2 linked regions of the Homo sapiens genome follow. The protein of the gene in region 2 purifies or fractionates together with the protein of the main gene of each other region. This does not show direct contact. Each region holds a gene or a part of one and is shown on either strand. Other genes may lie near its edges. The genes, in order: SEC24D and C9orf152.

Region 1 (3,815 bases), on a different chromosome or scaffold from region 2:
ATGCAGGAACCAGATAGATCGCCCCGATGCTATTTCTGGTCTAGTTACTAGTTAGCCATTTTACATGTTATCAAGATCAAGGATCAAGAATGTTCTTAGATTCCTGTATAAAGCATGTCCATTTGGTTTGAAAATATCAGATTGAAATTTCACTGGTTGCTTCTAATTAATGAGGTCATATTAAGAGTTCAGAAATCTGTGATCCTAAATACCACAAAGGGGTGAGGTTGGCCCACAATGACACTATTGGGACTAAAAAGTCTAATCAGAGGAGATTGGATTATAGAAGGCAGAGGGAAGAAAAACAGGTGGTAAATGAGAAGGAAAATCTAATCATGAAAACAAAACCAAAAAAATGGAGTTAAAGAATGAAAGAAAACAAGAAGACAATCTTATTCAATGTTTTTGAGGTGAGGAAGAAAATGTGGCCATGGATTACCACTGTAAAATCTCCCCACCCGACTGACCCCCTCCATAAATAACTAAATTATTCTTTGGGAGTAAAGAATGAGAGTGAGGTGGGAGCAGTAATTCATATAAGTCGAGCTTGCTTGAATTTGGAAAATTCTTTCCTTCTTTAGGTTTTAAAGTGACAGAAGTGGTAATGAGGTTTTTTTTGTTTTTCTTTTTTAAAAAGAAAGCTTATTTTGCAGTTAAGGTCATTTGACTTGCCTTTTGAAATGAATGCACTCCCATATGATATTGATATATTTAAGCTCAGAACAGTGAGATATTAGATTTAATTAAAAGAATCTACATTGCTTATGTAAGCCTTATAAGCCTTAAAGTTTGCTTTTTTTTTTTTTTTTTTAAAGATACAGGGTCTCACTTTGTCATCCAGGCTAGAGTATGGTGGCACAATCATAGCTCGCTGCATCCTCAAGCTCCTGGGTTCCAGGGATCCTCTTGCCTCAGCCTCCTGAGTGGCTGGGACTATAGGCATGTACCACTACACCTGGCTAAGTTTTTATTTTTAGTAGAGGTGGAGGTTTCGATATGTTGCCCAGGCTGGCCTTCAACTGCTGGCCTCAAGCAATCCTCCTGTCTTGGCCTCCCAAAGTGCTAGGATTACAAGTGTGAGCCACTGCACCCAGCCTAATTTATCTTGTTTCTAGTTATATGTCTTTTTTTTTTTTTTTTTTTTTTTGCCCACGCTGGAGTCGAGTGGCATGATCTCGGCTCACTGCAACGTCCACCTCCTGGGTTCAAGCTATTCTCCTGCCTCAGCCTCCTAAGTAACTGGGATTAGAGGTCCATGCCACCACGCCCAGCTGTTTTTGTATTTTTAGTAGATGTGGGGTTTCACCATGTTGCCCAGGCTGGTCTTGAACTCCTGACCTCAAGTGATCCACCTGCCTTGGCCTCTCAAAGGGCTGGGATTACAGGCATGAGCCACCATGCCCAGCCATATGTCTTAACCCAGCATCTATCATATGATCCTCAGAATGACAGCTTCCTTAGATTTTGTACCCTAATTGCCTTCTCTTGCTGCAGCCTAGTTTTGGCTCCAGCAATTCAGTAAAAGTAGTTCTACTGAGGTCCAGTATCATACAATCCAGATAGCTCCTTGATGGTCTTGCTTGGGTCAAGGAAACTTTGGGCTCTATGGTAAAATAGTGGAATTCCTTTAGGAATCTCTCCATCTTCATAGATATTATTTTTCACAAGTGAACTGTAGGAAAGTACCAAGTTTACAGTTAGATTTTCTGAAGAGAACATTAAGTCCAACTATTCTATGTTTTCAGACAATACTGTTTTAGAATCTCCACATTTTCTAGACTCCATGATGGTTAATCATAAGGTACTTAAGTTACATTATTTTTTAAAAACATATCATTGGTTGAAAGGCACACTTGAAAAGTGCTAATGGAAAAACCTCATTATAAGAACAGGAATAATCTCCTATCAACTTATTCAGAGAAAATTTATAATCATAATGTTTTAACTCCGGAAATCATTTAATTGTGCAAACAGGTTATCCAGTGGTAGAGGCAATGCTTTTAACTTTTAAACCAGAATAAAATAACAGGTTTTTCTTCCATAAATAGGCAATAAGTTTGTTTTTAACTTAAGGTCTTTGAATCCAGTTGTTTCAAAGTTAACAAATGAATGTCCAGAGAGGACACTAACTGTATCTGTACTGCTTCAACTAATGCTCCTGAAGTGTGAGATACTCCAGAAACAGAATAATGTTTCCATAGCTCTAAGACAAATAGTAAAATGAGGTAAATGTTTAAAGTGCTCATGATTGGACTGCATTCTGGCTAGATTCCAGGTGTACCTGGTGGGCTTTGTGTAACCTGAACTAGCATGCTATGAAATAGTACTGATATTTGAGTTGACTAAAATGGCAAATCTTCTGAATAATAAAGAAGACTGAATACTCATATAGATTCAGGAGTTGCTTATATGATTATCAACAGAAGAGATAAAAGAATGGATGACTAATTTAATCACTTTGGACAGCATGGAAAGGAACTTTTATGAAAAATCCATCTAGTAAGTGTGTTTGTTTTCTTTCTTTGCCCAGATTAAGAATTTGGACCCAAAATTTATCTGCATTATCTTTCCTGCTGAGGATTTACTTTTAGGTGGGGCTTCAGATGTCCTCTCAGCACTCACTTTTGACAATGAATGAACTAGAAAGTTTTCCCATCTATTGCTATTTTAGTTGGAATTCTATATTCACATATTTGATACACAGCTATAAAAAATGCCATCTAACTTTTATTGACATAGAGAAGAATGTGAACAAGAGAGCAAATGCAAAATAAATGTGGACTTGAGGTTCTGCTTTTCCTTTTATAGGAGAGAGACTAAATGAGGTTTATTCAAAGAATCTTCTAAAATTTCAAATTACTAGATGATGGAGAGAGTCAATTCTTTGAAAACTCTTCACACCTATTAATAACTTTTAAATGTAAAGAATTCCTGTATTTATATTTATAAATTATATTTGTTTATAAAATGTTATTACTGCCATCAGCTCATGTCAACTTTGTTAATATGCCTAAAATGTATTTAAGCATACACATTTCATAACAAAATACCCATCTCTGGATACAAAACAGAATCCTGTTTATATTAGGACACTTCTTACATATAACATTCTTTTGTTTATACATACCGTAGTGACTGTCAACTGAATATGCACATCCATTTTTTTTGTTCACATTTTTAAATGTTGGCTATAAAAAAAAAAACCACAGCCCCCCCAAATTGCATTCTTAATCTTCTCAGCTACACTGTTTACTGTAACAGCATCTAAGTGCCTGCAACATCATAAGCCTTCTATAGCTATGTGCTGAAGAAATGAGTAGTCGTTTGTAACACTTTAACATCTATGTGCAATAGGTAGCTCACCTGGCTTGCTGCAGAAGGACTTGCACAATTCTTCCGGTAACATGCCAACATATGGGCAGTCTGATTAACTAGAATTTCCCGGATGACCTTCAAAGGCTGGTGGAGAACTGCTTTAAAAGCTACATCACAAAACAATGAAAAGGACATGAGTTTTAGCTCAGACACTGATCTCTTCAAATAATCAAACAAAAAAGAACAAGTTGCTATTATCTTCAGACCACCCAGCAAGAATAATAGCATTTAAATCTGTTCAAGTCATTTGCTAATGGTCTCCTCTTGACTAAATATGATGATCTAACTAATGGAGAACATTGGCCTACCTACAGCAAAAGGTTATATTGGCCAGATTTACCTTCAGAATATTAGAATTGTACACACAGAAAAAAAGACAGGCCAATTTGTCATTTTTTGATGTCCTGAATTCTTACGGGCTGGATTGCTACCTTTTCCAA
Region 2 (4,552 bases):
GTTGCTAAAGTATAGGGGACAATTAATTGCTCTTTTGCCTCCTTAGTGCCATTTTCACCTTATTTTTGTCACCTTACTCTGATTTCTCCCTGGATAATTACCTACTCCTTCACATTCAGTGCTAGTGTTTCAAGTGGCCTTCCTACTTAGATACATGTGACATACGTGATCTTGTCCTCAGCCAGTCAGTGCATAAGGCCTTGATGAGCTTTATACATATTAGTTCATTTTATTCCTACAATAACCCTATGATTTGGGTACTACAGTTATTCCCAATTGACAGGTGAGGAAACTGAGCCCCAGAAAATTTATGTAACTTGTTTAAAGCTGCATATTAAGTAAATGGCAGAGCTGGGACTCAAACTCAGGCTGTGCTCCAAGACCCAGTACATGACCACTCCATTACACAGTATGCTGCCTCTCACAGTTAGATAAAGAATGTGGAACTCAGCCAAGTATGGTGGTTCACGCCCAGCACTTTTGAAGGTCGAGGTGGGTGGATCACCTGAGGTCAGGAGTTCAAGAGCAGCCTGGCCAACATGGTGAAACCCCATCTCTACTAAAAAAAATACAAAAATTAACCGAGCATGGTGGCAGGTGCCTGTAATCCAGCTACTCAGGAGGCTGAGGCAGGGAGAATTGCCTGAACCCGGGAGGCAGAGGTTTCAGTGAGCCGAGATTGCACCCCACTGCACTCCAGCCTGGGCAACAGAGTGAGAATCTGTCTCAAAAAAAAAAAAATGTGGAACTGCAAACTGCTGAAAGTGCCCTGAATGACCCTGACCTAGCTGGGAGGTCAGAAGTCTTCTCGGAGAAAGCCACACCTGGGCACTCCTTGCATGAACCATAATTTAGCACCTAGTAATGATGGGAAAGGGGGTACCGAGTTACCAAGAGCAGGAGAAAGGACGAGCACAGGGTATAGTGAATTCTCTGGGGGCATGTTGAATTTGAGATGTCTTTGGATCATCCCCACTAAGCAATTAGATTTGTGAGTCTGAATTGCAGGTGTATTAAGCATTGTGTTTCCATTTGATAGGGATTTAAATTGATAAATGTTTGTTGAATAACTGAATGAATAAATACCCTCAAGGGTGGGATAGAGCTTTAGGAACCTTTCAGTTTATGCCCTGCAGAGATGGTGACTGTTTGGCTGTGCCAGTTCACTCCTGCCAGGAACGAGGATTCCATTGGTTGGCAACAGCCCAGGTAATGGGAGATGGGCTCCTTCAGCTCAGAGGTGCCACTTTTGTTCCCAAAAGGCAGCACACTTCCTGCCCTAGACAGAGAGGTCCCTCTGGCCCCTGATTCCTGCCCAGTCTGGCCTGGCAAAGGGCAGCCCAAAGAGTCTACTGAACTCTACAAATAACCACAGAATCCCACAGAGCCCAGCTTTGACCTTTCAGGGTATCTTCCCTTCTCCCTCAACCTGTTCCTCTGTTAGAGGAGGAAGGGCTGGGATTTGACATGCCCTTGCTTTCTGAGCCCTGTGCCTCTAACTCCCTCCTGGAATGAAATCTGAGTTCCTAAAGGGAGGAGGTTTCTCCCCATGAGGGGGTTTCTGTGTCCAATCACACCTCCCTGCCTGATGTTTGAGGCTGGATGAGCCTGGGATGCCTCATGGGTCTCTGAGCCCTAGGCGTCCTCTGGCCCAGACAGTTCCCAGGCTGTTGGGAACGCCATGTCTTCTACCTCCAGAGTGAATTTCTCTGGTTTGTAGGAGGTGCCTTAGTTAGACCCAGCCAGGAAGCAGAGCTCCTATCGCCATACCTGGGCTAGCAGGGGGGCCAAGCCTGGCTCACCAGGCTGACCAGTCTAGCAAGATTAGAACATCAGAGCAGAGGCCAGGAACAGTGCTGGCAGCCAGGTGCTTGGCTGAGGCCCCTGGCTCCCTTAGCAGGTGGGACAGCTGAGCAGAGCTGCCCTGAGCCCGCCTCCCCTGCTCTTCCCCACTGGGAGGGAGGGCTGGCAAAGCCCTGGCTCTGCCTCCCTGCAGCTCTGCCACTCAGGTCTCCCATGGTAAGTCTCTCCTTCCCCAGCACCTGTCCATTCCTACCTTTTGGAAGCACCAGGAGGTGGGCCTGGGTCCTCTGCTGCCTCTTCAAGCCTTCATACTGGGCTCGCAGGAACTGGATGCTGAGTGGGGGCCCTTTCCCAGGGGCCTGAGTCCTGGAGCCCTCAGCCATTAAGTGAGACCTAAGCTGCCAGAAGTGGGGCAGGGCTGGGCACGGGCAGGGCAACCCCTCCATCCGGATCCGGGAGAAAAGCAAACACAGCTGGGTGGGGCAGGACCTGGGGAGGGGAGAGAGAGGGAGGGGGCAGTGAGGGAGAAGGAGAAGTGACGGGCAAAAGGAGGGTGGAAAGAGGAGTGGGACTGAGGAAGGAGATAGAAAAATAAGGGGGAAGGAGAAAGATGAAGGGGAAGAGGAGGTAGGGATAGGGAGAAATGTGGGGGAGGAGAAAGGTGGGAGACAGTGGCAGTAAGAGGAGAAGGAAATGTCAGAGGAAAGAAGGGGCAGCGAAGGGGGAAAGACTGGAGGAAGGAGGTGATAGTGACAAGCGGGGATTAATGGGGCGAGAGAAGAAAGAGAGGGAGGAAGATGGAGACAGGCAGGAGGAGGCAGGGAAAGGAGTGATGGGGAGTGGGAGACCGAGAAGTAAGGGGAGGACTGGGGGAGCAAAGAGAAAGGCAAGCCCAGCTGCTCAGAGCCCTTCAGGGGGGTCAAGAAGGTGTCTTATTCCAGGTCCTTCCATTGCTTGATCCTAAAGTTTAGAATCCAATTCCCAGTGCCACGGTGAAGTCTCCCCTTTCCTGGCAGAGCTGGGACTGGGGCTGGGGAGTGCTAAGCTCGCGCTCTGCTCACACATTTTGGACTGGAACGTGGCCACTTTTCAGCAAACCTGCCGGTTGGGTTTGCAGTAGTTCAAAGAACACCCTCGGGAGCTTCACAAGGTCGGTGCCTCTGGATGTGTGCCCCGCGGCCACACCCTAAAGAAACCCAGTAGCAAAGATCTCCCCAAGATCTCCACTCAGACCCCAACACACACCCCAGGTGAAAATTCAGCCCTAAAGTCAGCCATGGGACAGAGCCCAGGGGAATCTTGGCCTCGGGCCAGCCCTACCCCTTGGACATTTGGTGCAGCCTCTGCCGTCTCAGCATTCTCCAACCAAGTGGTAAGTTAGGCATCCCCTCACTCTCTGCTTGCCAGCCTCAACATTTCCACATTGCTTTTGAATCCCAGACCCTCTCCCTCTTACACCAGCTTTGACCTAGCCTTGCTGCATTTGGTCAACTAAGTCCCTTTCTATCTTCTCCTATCACGGTGCTTACTGATTACCCAATTACCCAATATGTCTACAGAGGCAATGGAAACAGAGTAGAGCCTGAACCTACAAGACATTTTGGACATTAACCAGACAAGATCTAGTCATTTGATGTGGGGGAGCCGTGGAAGATGGAGAGCAAATCTTCACTGGGTAGTATATGTTAGTTTTGCTAGGGCTGCCATAACGAAATCCCACAAACTGGATGTCTTAAACAACAAACATTATTGTCTCAGAGTTCTGGAGGTTAGAAGTCCAAAGTCAAGGTGTGAGCAGGGTTGGTTTCTTCTTGGAGCTGTGTGAGAGTATCTGTTCCATGCCTCTCACCTTGCTTCTGATGGTTTGCTAGCAATCTCTGGTATTCTTTGGCTTGCAAAAACATTGCCTAATCTCTGCCTTTATCTTGACATGATGTTCTTCCTTTTTATTTTTTTATTTTATTTTTTTTTTGAGAGGGAGTCTCACTCTGTCGCCCAGGCTGGAGTGCAGTGGCGTAATCTCAGCTCACTGCAAGCTCTGCCTCCCGGGTTCGCATCATTCTCCTGCCTCAGCCTCCCGAGTAGCTGGGACTACAGGCACCCGCCACCGCGCCCAGCTAATTTTTTGTATTTTTCGTAGAGACAGGGTTTCACCGTGGTCTCGATCTCCTGACCTTGTGATCCGCCCGCCTTGGCCTCCCAAAGTGCTGGGATTACAGGCGTGAGCCACCACACCCGGCCTAATATGATGTTCTTCCTATGTGGGTGTCTCTGTGCCCAATTTTCCCCTTTTTATAAGTACAGCAATCACATTGGATTAGAGCTCAATCTGTCTCAAAAAAATACCGAGAGAGATAGCCAAAGCTTCCTCATACCTTTTTATCGGTAGATCACTCTATCATGAAGGCAAGAGCAACCCATCCATGCTGGACCAGCTGCACCTGCCATGAAATCATGGCAGTAGACATCATGGCAGTAGGCTGGCCACAATGGCTCACAACTGTAATCCCAGCACTTTGGGAGGCTGAGGTGGGTGTATTGATTGTGCCCTGGAGTTCAGGACCAGCCTGGGCAACATAGTGAAACTCTGTATCTACAAAAATTAGCCAGGCATGGTGGCACATGCCTGTAGTCCGAGCTACTCGGGTGGCTGAGGTGGGATGATCACTTGAACCCAGAAGCTCGAGGCTGAAATGAGCCATGATTGCACCACTGTACTTCAGCCTGGGTAACAGAGTGAGCTCCTGTC

Evidence for each region.
Region 1: the proteins of C9orf152 (region 2) and SEC24D purify together in Homo sapiens (affinity purification with mass spectrometry; one large-scale study listed by BioGRID and IntAct). This does not show direct contact.

The regions. Positions count from the first base shown.
Region 1 is NC_000004.12:118,734,898-118,738,712, forward strand, and holds part of SEC24D (protein transport protein Sec24D), read right to left. Parts: intron 3,483-3,815; coding exon 3,364-3,482; intron 1-3,363. UniProt on the Homo sapiens protein: Component of the coat protein complex II (COPII) which promotes the formation of transport vesicles from the endoplasmic reticulum (ER).
Region 2 is NC_000009.12:110,205,331-110,209,882, forward strand, and holds the start of C9orf152 (uncharacterized protein C9orf152), read right to left. Parts: upstream 2,830-4,552; 5' UTR 2,250-2,829; coding exon 2,057-2,249; intron 1-2,056.